Linked DNA regions of Homo sapiens: region 2 is linked to region 1. The links come from fine-mapping of genetic effects on gene expression. Tissue or cell type: whole blood. Region 1 holds a variant in brackets; the other region holds the start of a gene. All regions are shown on one strand. Distances are between the middles of the regions.

The links. PIP is the estimated chance that this variant, and not a neighbour inherited with it, causes the effect.
Region 2: NAPB starts here. The variant in region 1 is fine-mapped to the expression of NAPB in whole blood (INTERVAL, PIP 0.97).

What each region holds. Positions count from the first base shown.
Region 1 is chr20:23,392,263-23,400,366 of GRCh38, forward strand. NAPB (NSF attachment protein beta) reads right to left here. Exons shown (of 11, transcript NM_022080.3): 3 at 4,810-4,926; 4 at 2,877-2,923; 5 at 2,660-2,737. Among named protein-coding and RNA genes, the nearest start is that of NAPB, 25 kb to the right of the region's middle. The variant G/A (reference allele first, on the strand shown) is at 4,916.
Region 2 is chr20:23,417,512-23,425,615 of GRCh38, forward strand. NAPB (NSF attachment protein beta) reads right to left here and starts at 3,977. Exons shown (of 11, transcript NM_022080.3): 1 at 3,794-3,977. The coding sequence starts at 3,891. RefSeq lists silencers at 2,966-3,195, 3,826-3,915 and an enhancer at 4,166-4,355.

The sequences.
Region 1 (8,104 bases):
TTTTCTTCCAGAGAAATATTTTCTTCCAGACTATTTCTGTGTGTGACTAAGTATTTGCAAAAAGAGAACCATAGTACACCTGTTCTTTTATAGCTGCATTTTAAAATTCAGTATTCCGTGAAGGTCAGGCATGATGGTCCATGACTGTAATCTCAGCATTTGGGAGGCCAAGATGGGAGGACTGCTTGAGTCCAGGAGTTTGAGACCAGCCTGGGCAACATGAAAAGACCTCATTTGTATGAAAAATTAAAAAATTAGCCGGGCATGGTGGCACATGCCTGTAGTCTCAGCTACTTGGAAGGCTGAGGTGGGAGGATCGCTTGAGCCCAGGAGGCTGAGGCTACAGTGAGCTGTGTTCATGCCACTCCAACCTGTCCAGCCTGTGGAACAGAATGAGGCACACGCCACCATTCCTGGATAGTTTTTTTTTTTATATTTTTAGTAGAGATGGGGATTTCTCATGTTGCCCAGGCTGGTCTTGAACTCCTGGGCTCAAGTGATCCTCCTGCCTTGGCCTCCCAAAGTGGTAGGATTATAGGCATCAGCCACTGTACCTGGCCTTTTTTTTTTCAAGAGAAAAAAAGAGTATGTCACATTTCATTTTATCTGCTCTCAAGTTTATGGAGACCCATGTGTTGGAGACCATGCCTGGGCAGCAGAAATGACACAGCACTGCAGGCTCCTGCCCCAGAGTGCCCTTCTGACCACTGTGAAAGAGGAAGCTGGAACAGGAGCCTCTGCTGGCAAAGATGCTCTGCGCACAGTGCTCATCCCCGCAAGACTCACTCAAACCTAAATAAAGATACTGTGGCCATCCCAGACACCCTGACCAAATAAATACCCCAGCCACACCAGATCCATCTCCCTCCCATTCCATCATCAATTCCACACCAGGGAACAAAGGAGGTTCAGATCCAGCTCCATCACCTGCCTCCAGGATCCACAGATAACCTTCCAAAGAGAAGGCTCACACACACGTCAATGCACAGGGTGGCCCTGACTTGATCAAGATCAGGGAGTATCCTCAGAAAAGTATGGCAATTATAAAAAAAAAAGGTCAAATAATAAATTTTATGTAACAAATATGAGCAAATTTTGTGCTGAATAACCAACAGGTGGAGGTCACACAGTCAAAAGAGTGAACGTTAACAATGCCAGTCCAATTTCAGTAACGCCTAGCAGATCCTTCCCCAGACCAGGAAGACTCCATTTGGTATGGTGGAGGTAGGGGTAGCATTTGTTTATTTAGCAAATATTTAGACCCCACTAGGTCCCAGAGTTCTGGGCTCTTGGGACACATCAGCAAAGCAGAGACAAAGCTCTCTGCTGACACGTGTGCCCAATCTGGCGGAGGGAGAGAGACAACCAAAATGAGAATGATGAGCAAGCATATGAGAGGGCATATTGTAAGGAGACATCTGCTCAGCAATACAAGAAGTTAAGTGAGGTGTGTGGGGATCTACTATGTCTTCCTGGGGGGCTAAATTAACTAGGGGGTCATAATAGTTAATCATGGAAATAGGTAATAAATGAGCAAAAATGGAAGGGCACGGGGAAGTTAGCCATGTGGACTTGAAAGATGTGAGGAGTCAGCCACGTGGACATCTGGGGAAGAGCTTTGCAGACAGAGGAAATCGTGGATACAAAGGTCCTGAGGCAGGAGCGCTCATCTGGCATGTGTGCGGAACAGCAAGGAGGCCAGGATGGCCATGCAGGGTATGCAAGAGGAGGAGAATAACAGAAAAGAGGAGAGGCCAGGCCACACAGATGCATGGGGAGTGTGGGGCTGGGAGGAAGCAATTCAGTGGACCCATGAAGGCTCTGCACAGCTCCAGCTGTTCCTCTTAGTGAAAGGGGTCTAATGACTGTCAGCAGTAGAGAAACAGAGTATGATGCAATGCTTAGAAGGCTCACTCTGGCTACTCTGTGGCATGGGGATGTGGGGTTGGCAAGGTAGGGAGAGCAAAAGCAGGGAGACCGGTTTGAAGGATCCTGCAGCGATCAAGTGTGAGCTGAGAGACAAGGTAGTGAGTTGTGCCAAGACTTGGGAGCAGGAAGGACACCGCTCACAAAAATTGCTCACAGGTTGTAGAGAAAGAGAAAAGGCAAGGAAGCCTGTAGTTTAGCGGGGAACACTGGGTTGGGGACATCTGAGAATCCAGTCCCAGACATGTTGGGTTAGAGATGACTGCTGGACAAAGTGGAGAGGTCAGCAGGCAGGTGGATACAGTAATCTAGCATTTGGAGAGAGGTCTAGGCTGCAGTCAGATTTCTGAGTCACTGGCACACAGATACTTAAAGCTGTGATGCTGACTGAGTGTACAGAGGTGACCTCTTACACTTTCTTCACTGGGCCTTAGAGTACTAAGCAATACAGCTGAAGGTTCTTTTGGCAATGCTAATGTTCTGACATGAATCAGAGAGAGTGGAAACAACAGGTGATCTCTGTAAATCTTAATCAGCTCTCATGTCTTAGATGTCCACTCCAGGAAAACAGCCCATCTACTTAGCCAGCTAGTAGACTTTGCCAGAAAGTCTCCAGGCAAGGCCATCTATGACCACTCTACACCTACGATCACTCTCAGACTGAGGAGAGGAGAGTTCTTTGAGTCAGCTTATCTGCCTGCTTCACATCTGAGGAAGTGTGCCCACTGCTTACCTTCTCAATGTCTACAAGTTCAGTCTCATAGATCTCTGCAATAGTAATGTGGTGCTTGGCTGCAATTGTAAACCTTCCCTAGGGGAAAAAACAAGAAACAGTCACACACCGATTTTACCTATCTGAATGCCAGTTTGGGAACATAAAAAAGAAAGATAGAACTCTAAGCCATCTCAAGACTCCACCCCACAGCCACTCAAGCAATGCAATGTCTTACCATGTCTGTGTAAATGTCGATGGCTGCATTTAAGCAGTTGATAGCCTCTGAAGCGTAGGCATTTAAGAAAAACAATGAAAAATCCATTCAGTCAAAGAGGGTTCAGGTGAGGCTGTCTTCCTGGCTGTTATCAGAACGTTAATGAGGTATAATTTTGGAGTGGAGGGTGGGCAGGTTAATGAGAAGCAAACAAAAATCATGCACAAGTCCAGATTCATCAGCATGGCTTTGTTCCCAGCAGCTATAGTATAATTTAGGGAACTGTAGCTGGAGTAACATTGGCTTAGTTACTCTTAACCTTAAAGTGAGGACTCCATCCAGGCAAAAGACTGTATTATAAAGAAAATAAAACCATAGAGGTTGTCACCAACACTGATAAATTGTATCTGCTAAAATATGAATGCAAACATATTCCTCATTAATACCATGCATATATATTAATTTTGGAACATGGCACCACATCACAAGAACAATCACCTCAATAGATTCTACTCTCCATGCAGCCAAAAGCAAAAGCACTTTGAAATGCCTATTCAAACAACCCTTAAGCAAAGTCAACATTCTGTATAATGTTCAAAGATGCTAAATTGTAGCATACTAACAAAATGAAGAAACAAATCTAATAAATAATAATGCTAATAAATTTTACTAATTTTCTAAACAAGTGAGCCAAAAAATTTTCCCTATCATAAAATGATGGTGTTTATGATGCTGGCATACAGTGACAGCTCCAAGTTTATTACGTTTGGTTTAAAGAGGCAGCAAAGTAGAAAGGCCTGACTACAAAATTAGAAAGGTAAGCAGATGAACAAAAATTAAAACAATTTCCCTCTAAACTACATAAAAAATGTGGATCCCTGTTACACCTTTTAAAATACAGAATATAAAGAGAAAAATAATCTATCAATAATCCCGCTCAAATCCGTTGTTAGTACTCAGATGTACTTTCCTTTTGCGTTTATTAGACACATTTCTATATGCACAAACTTTTTTCTGAAAATGAGATTATACAACATTCAGTCTCATGTGCTTCTTTAATTGACATGTAAACATTTACCAGGTCACTGAAGATTCTCTGAAACCAGGGATTTTAATGCCTGCACCATATTCTAAAGTACTGATGCATTACAATGTTACCACTCTAACAGCTTATTTAACCTGTGTCCAGTTTGTCACTTTGGGAAATAAACTGTGATTAACCCTTATACCAAAGGTATTGAAGATACCCTATTTCTTTATGACATATTTATTCTCAAAATTTGGGATCTGTGTGTTAAACAAAATGGACTGCTAAAAGAAAAAGGAAAAACACAAAATTTCCGCTGTGCACGCGTGTGGAAGGTAAGAAATTAATACTTTTAATTACACTCTTCTAACTAAAAAGAAATAATCTTTGCAAAATTTTACCACATTAAATATCCAATTGCATTCTTTCCTCAAAACAAATACTTTGAAAAACTTTTTAAAAAACCAAATGAATACTGTATGAATCAGACTTTTTAACGATTGAATATTACAATCTCCCATTAACTGGATCTGAAAACTCCTTAGGTATTTAGGAGTAAGGGAACATAAGAGTTTCCTTTTATGAACAATATACATTTTCACAAAATTAAGATATAAGAAGTCTTAGATAAAATTAAAGGTAATTTCCAAAAAATTCTCTAAAATGCAATATAAATAAGAGTTTAATTAAATGATGCTATAAAGTAAACAGCCAGTATAAATTTAACATAATTTCTCCTCATAAAAGCCCCCAAATGATTAAAAAAGAAAAATCCCTAAGGTTATCAAAATTCTCTATTATTCCAAAATACAAAAATTCCTTTTTACCAGGACTTGAAAGCACACCAACACTGACCTTAACGTTGAGGGAAGTACTGACTGGTTAGTTACACACAGAGATAGCATGCTACATGCCTGGCTGTCTTACCTTGGGGATCTGCCTTTTTGTAAGCATTTCCAGCATCCACAAAGCTGGTAGCAGAGTCATGTTTGCTCTGAAGCTGCATGTGGAGCTTGGCTGCCTGACAAAATGC[G/A]TTTCCTGCAGCTGAAGAAGACACTACAATTAAACACAGAGGAACAAGTCCCCCCCAGAGCAGCCCATGCTGTAAGCACTGGACCTCCCTAGAAAAATTATATTCCACTGAAAAGAAGCATTCTAGTCAGAAGCAAAAATCCATGTGGTCCAGTGCACCTCGGGCAAATATAAAAATAACCAGAATCAAGTCAAACAGCGATGAAAGCTTCTCCACCTCAGCTCCAGCAGACTTTCCAAGTGTCCCTGGGCACTAAGCCACTATTCCCTGATCTGTCCATTCAATACCAGTAGCCAAGTCTTGGGCTACTCAATTCAATTCCACTAACATATAATAAACATCAGCTAAGGGCTTCAAGCCACAAATGATTAAAGAAAGGTAAAACACTGAGCGCAAAGATATTTGCTCACTTTTCTATCTTAGTGTCTCCTACACTTAGCTGTCGGTGTGGAAGAAACTGCTAATGAAGGCTTCATGGATAAAGTAAGTTTCCTAAAAAGTGAAAATCAGGCCCACAATTTTGAAATCCAGAAAAGTCTAAAAATCCAAATTTTTTTCTTTACTTTATAGCAAAATCTGACTGAAATTTATATGAGGTTTAATCTATTTTACCCCATTTAGTGTGAGAATTTACAAATTTCCCTGCAGAATCACTGATGGATCTGGTTGTGGGGTACCACCCAGGTCTCCAACTGGGACACAGTACAACATATAAGGTACATGAACTAATCTTTTTCAGAAAAGGTTTTGGATCAGGGACCATGGATTCTGGAGTGCTGGAAAAGAAAGAGGGAAGGAATCGCTAGCAGAGGAGTCACAGGAACACAGAAGAAATGCTTGAAGGTAAGAAAGGGCTGGAAGTGGAGGCCAGTGACAAGCCTGCCCTGACTGGAGGAGGCCAGTGGAAATCAAGGCTGAGGCTGCATCAGGCCACTTCCCAGAGGGTTTAAACATCAACATGCGAAACTTCCTGAGTTCAGAGAAAGCAACACAGCAGAGTGCCTCTGAAAAATGAGTCACATTGGGGAAGTCAGTACAGCAGAAATGGAGAGGAAAGAATCTGATCTACCAGGAAAAGCATGGTTAAGAATATCACAAAGCCTTTAGGTTTCTAAAAAAATTATCATAAAGCAGTACTCACTGCTGATATTAAACATTTGCTATAAATTTTTTTTGTGAGGAAAAAAAATCCAATTCTTTTCTTTTTTTCAAGACAGGGTCTCAATCTGTCACCCAGGCTGCAGTGCAGTGGCGTGATCACAGCTCACTGCAACCTCCACCTCCCAGGATCAAGAGATCCTCCTGCCTCAGCCTCCTGAGTAGCTGCATGTGCCACCACACCTGGCTATTTTTTATTTTTAATTCTTTAAAAAATTTTTTTGGCTGGGTTTGGTGGCTCAAGCCTATAATCCCAGCACTTTGGGAGGCCAAGGCAGGTGGATTACCTGAGGTCAGGAGTTCGAGACCAGCCTGGCCTGAACATAGCGAAACCCTGTCTCTACTAAAAATACAAAAAATTAGCTGGGCATTGTGGCAGGTGCCTATAATCCCAGCTACTTGGGAGGCTGAGGTAGGACAATTGCTTGAATCCGGGAGGCGGAGGTTGCAGTGAGCCGAGACTGTGTCACTGCACTCCAGCCTGGGTGACAGAGCAAGACTCTTGTCTCAAAAAAAAAATTTTTTTTTTTTTTTTTTTTTTTTGTAGAGACAGGTGCTATGTTGCCCAGGCTGGTTTTGAACTTCTGGGCTCAAGCAATCCTCCAGCCTCGGCCTCCCAAAGTGCTGGGATTACAGATGATTATACCTGGCCGTAAACATCCAATTCTGCTAAAGCTTCAGCTGCATCTCTTGTTCCAACTCCCTCTCCCCAGAGGAAATGCACAGTTCTCATGTGGGTTTCTGAACCTGAGGGCAAAGGGACAGTACAAACTCTGGAGCCCACCTGCCCAGGTTCAATTCTTGCTCTGTACCACAGTTTCTGATTAAAAAGAGTACCCAGGCATCTTTGAAAAATATGTAACCACCAGCATGACATGGGTAGTGCTATGATCTGAATGGCAGTATCCCCCCAAAATTTGTATTACTGGAGCCTGATATCCAATTTGACAGTATTAAGAGGTGGGGCCTTTGGGGGAGTGATAAAGTCATGAGAGCACCACCCTCATAAATGGGATGAGTGCCCTTATAAAAGAGGTTGAAGAGAACTGCCTTGTTCCTTCCACCACGTGAGGACATAGCAAGAAGGCGCCATCGTGGAAGGTGAGAACAGTCCTCACCAAATACGGGATCTGCTGGCACCTTGATCTTAAACGACCCAGCCTCCAGAACTCTGAACAATACGTTCATTTTCTTTATAAATTACACTAAGGTATTTTGTTATAGCCGCAGGAAGAAACCAAGGCACTGAACAATCAGAGTACATGCCAGCCTCAGGGCTAGAGCTGGAACTGAAGAAGCCCTGCTGGCCCCTTGTGAATCATGAGAGGCTGGTGGGTATCCAGAAGGGGCAAAGGCCACTGCCAGGACAGTGGCCAGGCACCTGGGGTACTTGGGGCAGCACTTAACCATGAAGTGGCAACTCAGGAACATATCTGGCTAAGTGGGAGCTTTAATGGGCTCTGCCTCAGAAGAACGTAGTAATAGCTTGGACTTCGCAAGTAAAGTGCTTAGAAGGGCCTGACTCACATTACACACGGTGGCCACTTTCATTATTACATGCAAATCTAGCCTTAGATCATATCTGTGGTTTGGCATATTGAAATGCCATCTTTTTTTTACAATCTACATCCTTGCTCTCCTGCTGGCATTTCATTTTTGATAACTTATCTATGTTTCCTGTCTCAGAATCAGTCATGGGCCATCCTTTTCTTGCTCAGTAATACCACAACACCCAGGCTCTTCTGGGCTACCTCCATTTCTCCAGACAACAGTAAGCGCTTTAATTTTACATTTTCACATTCCCACATTCCAAAACGAGTTGCTGGCTTACTTTTTCACTCTGACTATTCATTCCAATCACTGACAGCAAATGCTAGCTCGGTCTATCTAAACTTGGAAGTGTTGGGCCGGGCACAGTGGCTCATGCCTGTAATCCCAGCACTTAGGGTGGATCAGGCACTCCTCGTGGTCAGGAGTTCAAGACCAGCCTGGCCAACATGGAGAAACCCCATCTCTACTAAAAATACAAAA
Region 2 (8,104 bases), 25 kb after region 1:
CAGACTCAGGCCGATTTAAAATCATACCAGTAGTTCATTAACATTATAAACTGGAATTTGAAATTAACTACAAAATTCCATAGCTCATCCCTGGCAACAAACTAAAGGACAAGACAACTCCTTTGGAAGTAGTTTTACTAAACGTACTATACTACAAACTTGAGAAAAAGTTTTAATTCCACAACTACAAAAGCACATTACTGCTTAACGGGCAATTAAGCAGAAACACAAACCACCACAACAGTGGTTTCCTGCAATGTTTGCATCCCTTGTCAGCTCTTTTCCTGGGGAGGAAGGTGGGGATGGGAAAGGAATATTGATACCTTACCTATCAAGCAGATAAGGCAGAGGATTTGTGCCTTACACAGAGAAGAAATATTTGACTGACATGTTCTCATAAATACATATGCATATTTTCATCTAATTTTACTGAAAGCAAGAAACAAAAGCTATAGAATACTACTAAGAATACAGTATTGCCACAAAACCACTGTGAGTGGTAAACACTAGAGAACTCATGACAGGCTTTAATCTGCAGATAGAGCATTCAGAATGTCTGTGATGTGAAATATCTGCAATATGCCAAGCAGCTTTTAATGACTGCCACAACCTGAAAACAGATGGCTTATCCTCTTTAAAGCACCAGCTAGTCAGCTCTTAAATATATGAGCTCTGATGATATTCAAGTCAGTATGTGTGTTTTATTAATTTTGTATTACATTAATTCTGGAGTCTGACATAGAGATGGATTACTCTGCGTTTTAAATAAAGGATTACATGCAGACCTTTAGGAATGAAAATGGTGACATTCTATAGCTAAGAAGGCAGGGGCAGGGTGGAATAACATGTATTCCAGTCTAGAAAGGTGATGATACATGCCATCTATAAGGTAGGATTCTAAACATCTAAAATTGATACAGAATCTTAATTGTCCTACTGACACAGGAACACTACGTCTGTTTTCTGGCTTCAGTAATTATACAATATTACTAAACTCCTAAAATTCTAAGTACTCTTCTTCCTGCAAGCTTTCCTGGAGCAAGTATTACTGGAAATAACAGTCTTCAAAGTATAAATCACACTTGCATGGTACATTAATGGTTAAAGCTCTTTCAGATATTTTATTTCATTAAAAGATCAATGAGGCTGGGCGTGCTGGCTCACGTCTGTAATCCCAGCACTTTGGGAGGCCAAGGCAGGTGGATCACGAGGTCAGGCATTCGAGACCAGCCTGGCCAACACAGTGAAACCCCGTCTCTACTAAAAATACAAAAAAAAAAAAAAAATTAGCCGGGCGTGGTGGCGGGTGGCTGTAATCCCAGCTACTCAGGAGACTGAGGCAGGAGAATCGCTTGAACCTGGGAGGCGGAGGTTGCAGTTAGTTGACATCCCGCCACTGCAATCCAGCCCGGGTGACAGTGTGAGACTCCGTCTCAAAAAAAAAAAATCAATGATGCAGTCTACGGCTCTGAAATTCTGGAAAAGTTATCTGTTTGGCCTACTGCTTCTTTGATAAATAACTGGAGCTGATAATTTTGATGAATATGCTAATTAATATCTCATGGTCACTGTCTCCAACATCCATGGTTCCAAATGTTTTATAAACATAACCTCACTGAACTCCCATAAATTTTGAGATATACTATTATTGTCTCCGTTTTATACACTGGAAACTGAAGCACAGAGAGGCTAAGTAACTTGCCCTAGGTCCCAAAGCTAGATAATAAACCAACCTGTTGTACCCAGGTAAGAACTAAGATGCATTAACTTTTGTGTAACTGAGTGTGAATGGTGAAGATTCGTCTTCTTATATGTCCTGTCAATAACATAGGTAGCAACATTTAAAAGGGAGATGTTTCTTTAAAAACAAAGGCTTTTCAAAATCCTTTAAGGATTATAAGCTCAAGATTTGGCCTAGTTTCCTAAAAACATCGAAAACCTCTTTCCCAAAAGGAGTGTTCTCCTGAGACAAGCACCAAGTGCTGTCAAGCTTTTTCCTCTGCCAGTTACAGACTCTCCCACAGGGAAGCACTTCCTGACTTGAAATAATGTTGTAACATTAAAATAACCTCCTGGCATGAGGTACTATGACATTAAATTTTATTAGAGTGAATTTTAAATGTTTTGTGAATCAAAACATTTAAAAGGAGTTAGTGTGGCGCTAGCACTTGATGGTACTGTCATAACTTTTAAATGCAAAACAAAACATAATTCATAGCTATATCTCCTACACATCACATGAGAAATTTAGAAACCAGCTGTGATAAACGTCCTCTGAGAGGTTCCTGAGGACAGGGACCCTTATCTTCTTGCATTTTTGCAGCCTTTATGCATTTCTGCAGTTATGCGTACTGCATGCAACTTGTCCTTAAGCATTTCCTAAAGACGTATCAATAGCGGTAAAGTATTATAATTTATAGCCAAAAGAATGAAGTTGGCAAAACAAGCTAAGAGCCCATTATGTCTGTCTTCTGAAATAGAGTCTGAACTGAATGTGTACAGAAATAAAATCGTGTCTAGTCATGCAATGGGTTAAGTATCTGCTCTTGGTAACAGCAAAGGATCTTTCACTTTCAAAAGAAAACAACGAAACAGGCACACACAAAATTTCTGCCTTTCTCATCCTAAACAGCTGAATCATTCACATATTCAACAGCCCAGAATTCTTCCGGGCTGTCAGTGCGGGCTCTGCTTTTTGAGAGGTTGGAATTTAAAATCCTCCTTAGGAGAGCACGGAAGAATTACAGGAAATTAAAGGGATTCCCAAAGGACGCCTGACTTAAACAGCAGCAGCGTTACCGTTAATCAAACAGGAGGCTCTGGCTATCAATCAATCTCCGGAGAAGGAAAAATACTATGCTGAGAAAATATATTCGTTCATTAGTCAAGTATTTACTAAAGGTGTACTCGGCGCAAGGCCCCTGGAGAGAGGCCAACAAGCACACCAGCTCTGGATCCCTCGCCGGACCGCCCCCTCCCCGGCGGGGCCCACCTGCAGGCGGGACGCCCCCAGGTGCGCGTTCCAGGCGCCGGGGGCGGCCCCCGCACCCACCCCTCCGGCTCCACCCCGGCGCGCCTCACCCGGACCGGTCTCAGGAGCGATACGGGCTTCAGCGTGGCGAAATGCACCAATACGACTCGCTACGCACTGAGAAGGGGGCCCCACGCGCGCCCCGAGCTACCGCGCCCGCGGGCCTCAGGGAGCCGCTGACCTTCTAGGTCGTGGGACCCCCGCACCAACCCGGGCCAGGGCGAGGGGGGCGATCTGGGGTCTCCAGAGGGCGCGTGAGGCTGACAGCCCCCCCCCCAGAGTGTTCTAGGGGCTTCGTGGGGCGCTTGGGGAGCTCTGGGGGTCCTAGGGGTTCTCTGAAAGGCGCGTGGGGGCTGAGGGTCCCTGTGAGACTCTGGGGATTCTAAGGGGGCGTGTTAGGGGATCCGGAGAGCGTGTGGGGGCTGAGGAACCCTGGGGAGTTCTGCCGGCCCTAGGGGGTCTCTAAAGTGCGCGTGGGGGCTGAGAGCCCCTGGGAGGATGCGGGGTTTCCAGGGACCCTGGGGGGGCCTGTGGGGTCTCTGGAGGGCGCGTGCGGACTGAGGGCCCCTGGGCGTCCTGGGGGCTCCAGGGGGCGCTGGGGGACCCTACAGGATTTCTGGAGGGCGCCTGCAGGCTGAGGGCCCCTAGACGTGGTCTGAGGGCCCCAGAGGTTGCGTGGGGGACTCGGGGGGTCAGCCTGAAAGGAAGGGGGCCAAGTACGGAGACCCCCCCCCCCCAGGGCACGCACGGTCTGGCGCTCACCCAAACAGCCCTCGGAGGAAGGAGTGGGAGGCCTTGACTCGCTTCTCGGCCTCCGCCATCAGCTGTACTGCCTCACGCTCCTTCCCCGCGTTGTCCATGTCGCCCGCCGCGGCCGCCACAGCCCCCTCAGCCGGCTCGCTGTGCGCCCAGGCGCCTTAACCCTCCCTCTGGCGGCCGCAGGGACGCAGGCGCAGGCGCGACGCGCGAGGCCTTTCGGGAGCTGTAGTCCGGGTCCTGTCATGGCGGCGGGGATTCGCGAGCCGCCTACTACAGTTCCCAGGAGGCCCCGGGGCGGGGTGTGTGTGAGCCGAGCTTGCGCACCGCTAGCTCCCAGGACGTCGGCGCAGGGGGCGTGACCCCCCCAAAGGGGTCCTGGGCCAAGGTGAACTTTAATTTTGTATGTATGCAGAAATGGAAAAATGATCCGTGGCCTCTAGTAAAGATCACCTCCTCAGTAAGACTCGCATGGCAATGGGATGGATGAAGGAACAGGGGATAACAGATTGGATGGAACCCACACCCTTCATGCAAGTTCTGCAAAAGAGAATCTGGTGTAGCCACCAAAGCATCACATGCTTGATACCGCCCACCAAAAAACGAGCAACAGCTGGCAATAAGAGCCATTTTTATCTCCAAGAGCAAGACGTCCCCAATATAAGTTCAGTTATTTTTAAATCTCCCCAAACTGTAACTTTCTGTTGGTCCTCTCTTCCTTGGTTATAAATGAGTTGCATATATGCAATATATGCATAATCCACTCTTTTGTTGACTGAATTATATTCAATGGATGTGAACCATTGAACTCTTATCCTTTACATAATACTGGCCATAGTGGATGGATCTCCAGGGACAAAATGTTTGCCTGCCAGGAAGACTTCTAATCTCCTAGGAGAAGTATCCATAGATAGATGGGATCCTGTGCCAGAGACTTTCAGGCCTGTCCCAGAGGGAGTTATTTTTGAAGACAATGTCTAGACCATTCAAGCTTGGCAGTGCTAAGGCAGAGATGCTGAAACTAATAAGAAAATCACTGCCAAGTGAGATTTATGACAGTTTCAAACTGTTAATAAATACACTCTGGGCACTGGCATGCAAAATTTTAGAAAATGAAGACTGTCTGTAGAGGGCAAGGCAAGAGGGGCCAAACTCCTAGAAAGAAAGTTGACTAAAGCACATGTCACAGAGTTCATACATTTCAGGACTCCGTAGAGATAGAAAGAAATCTCAGCTCTTCGTGCAGTTTATTTACGATTACTACATGCATTATTCTAACTTTGAAAAGCTGAGCTGTGTGTTTTTGGAGAGAGAAGGAGGCGGGAAATTGGAGGTGACCGTAAATGCAGGGGAGACCAGAGAAAAACTGTAAAAAGTGAACATAAGCATTTGGAAAGCAGAGCAGTCTATGGGGGCTTAATGGAGTGAGGCTAAGTCAAAAGCTCCTAAGTAAATCAGTGTGTTGATTAAATCAGTTGTTCCCTAACGTGGTTCGATGCAGAAGCTCTAATGGATATTTAAGAAATACTGATTCCTAGGCCACTGGGTTTTGGTATCAAGGTCTCTTGCAGCTGGGGTCTAGAAAATGCACATTTTGAAAAGAACTCTCCATCCCTATCCTAAAGCACACAGTTCTAGATTCTCATATCTGTAGTCAGTTGAAAAGGAGCTGGAACAGACTGCCTCCCCGAAGCTAGCACTTGCAATTAAGAGAGACATTTTTGGTGGTTTCTAGTAATTTCCTTCATTCTCTTCTTTGTCACAGGAAATTTGTGGGCACTCCCACCGTTCTGCCAGTCCACACCAAAGTGGGAGAAAACCTTCAAACCTTAATTACTGGGTAGAGCTAGTGTTTTATTCTCCCAAAGGCTGGGGGAGGAAAGGAGGCAGGGCAGAGAGATGAACCTCACAGAATAAGGCCTGACTAGAGAGACAGCTGAGGAATCCTTGAAACAAGAAGGAAAAGGAAAGGAGAAGCACCCCTGGTGTGGATCAGGAGAAGAATAGAAGTCATCTTGGAGAAGAGCCAAAGGACCCACTGCCCACACCTGCGCTGCCCAGGATGGAGCCACTCACCACTGGTGGCTATTTACATTCAAGTTAAATAATATTAAATAAAATGTAAAGTTCCATTTCTTGGCTGTACTAGCCGTATTTCAAGTGCTCAATAGCCACACATAGCCAGTGGCTACTGAAAGAGTTATAAATATAGCATCCTGGTGGATTGACTAAGTTAGACACCTGGTGGATTGACTAAGTTAGATACTTGAGGGCGGTGGCTCACGCCTGTAATCCCAGCACTTTGGGAGGCCAAGGCAAGCGGATCACTTGAGGTGAGTAGTTCAAGACCAACCTGGCCAACACAGTAAAACCCCATCTCTACCAAAAATACAAAATTTACAAAAAATACAAAAATTAGTTAGGTGTCGTGGTGCATGCCTGTAATCCCAGCTACTCAGGAGGCTGAGGCAGGAGAATCACTTGAACCTGAGAGGTGGAACAGAGGTTGCAGTGAGCCGAGATTGCACCATTACACTCCAGCCTGGGCGACAGAGTGAGTGAGACTCTGCTCAAAAAAAAAAAAAAAAGTTAGACACCCAAAAAACGACAGGTGCAAGAAGATTATTTTGACTTTTTCTTTTCTTTTTTGCATACAGAATACACACTGGACACTTTGACCTCTTGTTTCTTTCTTTCTTTTTTTTTTTTTTTTGAGACAGAGTTTCACTCTGTTGCCCAGGCCAGAGTGCAGTGGCTCACTGCAAGTTCCGCCTCCCAGGTTCACGCCATTCTCCTGCCTCAGCCTCCCAAGTAGCTGGGACTACAGGCACCCACCACCACACCCGGCTAATTTTTTGGATTTTTAGTAGAGACGGGGTTTCACTGTGTTAGCCAGCATGGTCTCGATCTCCTGACCTCGTGATCCACCAGCCTCGGCCTCCCAAAGTGCTGGGATTACAGGCGTGAGCCACCGCGCCTGGCCCCAACCTCTTGTTTATTTAAAGGCAAGAGATGAAATTCCCATATGAAAGATGTCCCTCTTATACTAGAACTAAAGCAACATTCTTATCATCAAAGACAGGAAGTTGAGGCTAAGAGAATTCTGTACAAACCCTATTAAACTAACCCTTATCTTCTTAGTCACTTTTCTATCCAATTAACTACCCTAGCCCAAGCCCCTCTGCCTCATCACATTTTCAGTTTACTATTCTTTGTCCAATTCAGTAAATAAGTAACACACTCTAACTGCCTCTTTGGGTTTTCATTTCCTTATGAGGCCTCCCATGCCATGTAAAACTTGTATCAAATACACCTGTGTGCTTTCCTGCTATTAACTTGTCTTATGTAAGTTTAATTTTCAGACTCCACCAGGAGCCTGAGATGCCCCCCTACACTACTATATGGACTGCACAGACAGAGAACAATTTTATCATTCCACAAGTCCTAGTGGATGGCACTAGCCTCTATGTGCTTTGCTTTTCAGAAGTTCTGGACACTTGTAAGAAAAGAAGAAAAAGGCTTCAGGGAGTTTCTGAGAAGGCAGAGCAGGAAAGGAGCGTAGCCTGAACAAGGCAGAGCCAACAGTACTGCTGGCTTTTCCCTGTGAGAAGATGGAGGTGGACACCTGGACACTCAGACTGAATCAGCACATACCCCGAAAGATGATCCATCAAGACAGGGCTGAAGCTACTTGAGAACCCCAATACTAAGAAAGCCAGAGTCAGAAAAGAACAGAATCGATATGGGGAAAGGGTGTAGCCATCTGTGTGTGTTCACAGAAGGGGAGAAAGCACCAGGCAAAGATCCAGTATGGAAAATTATGGGACATCACTGCTGCTTCACTGAAGCAAAGCAAGAAGGCTCACCCACATTAAAGGGGAGGGAAATGAGACGACATCTCCTGATGGGAGGGCCTCTGAGGATTTGCAGATGTTTTCACACCACGACAGCTAGGTTAGAGGGAGTCCGTGCTCACCCTGGTCCACTCTGGTTGCATTGACAAAGTTGGGAAGCTGGAGCCCCTACGCTGGCGTTGGGGGACAGCCTTCAGCTCACATGGCCCTGCATGGCATGGCCCAACGGTCCCTGCCCAGGTCTGCAGTGGCCTTCTCTGATGACATCTCAGCCTTCGTTCTGCCTGAAATGCTAAGCGTGGCTCAGAGTCATCGGACAAGGTCAAACCATCTAAAGCAGAGTGTTCTGCTTCAGAAGGCAGGGAAGGAAGAAGTCCATTTCAGGAGGCTCTTCACCCAAAATCGTTAAAGGAATGCATTAATGAAAATAAATCTTCCATCTGTGTGGATGAGGTTGTGCAAT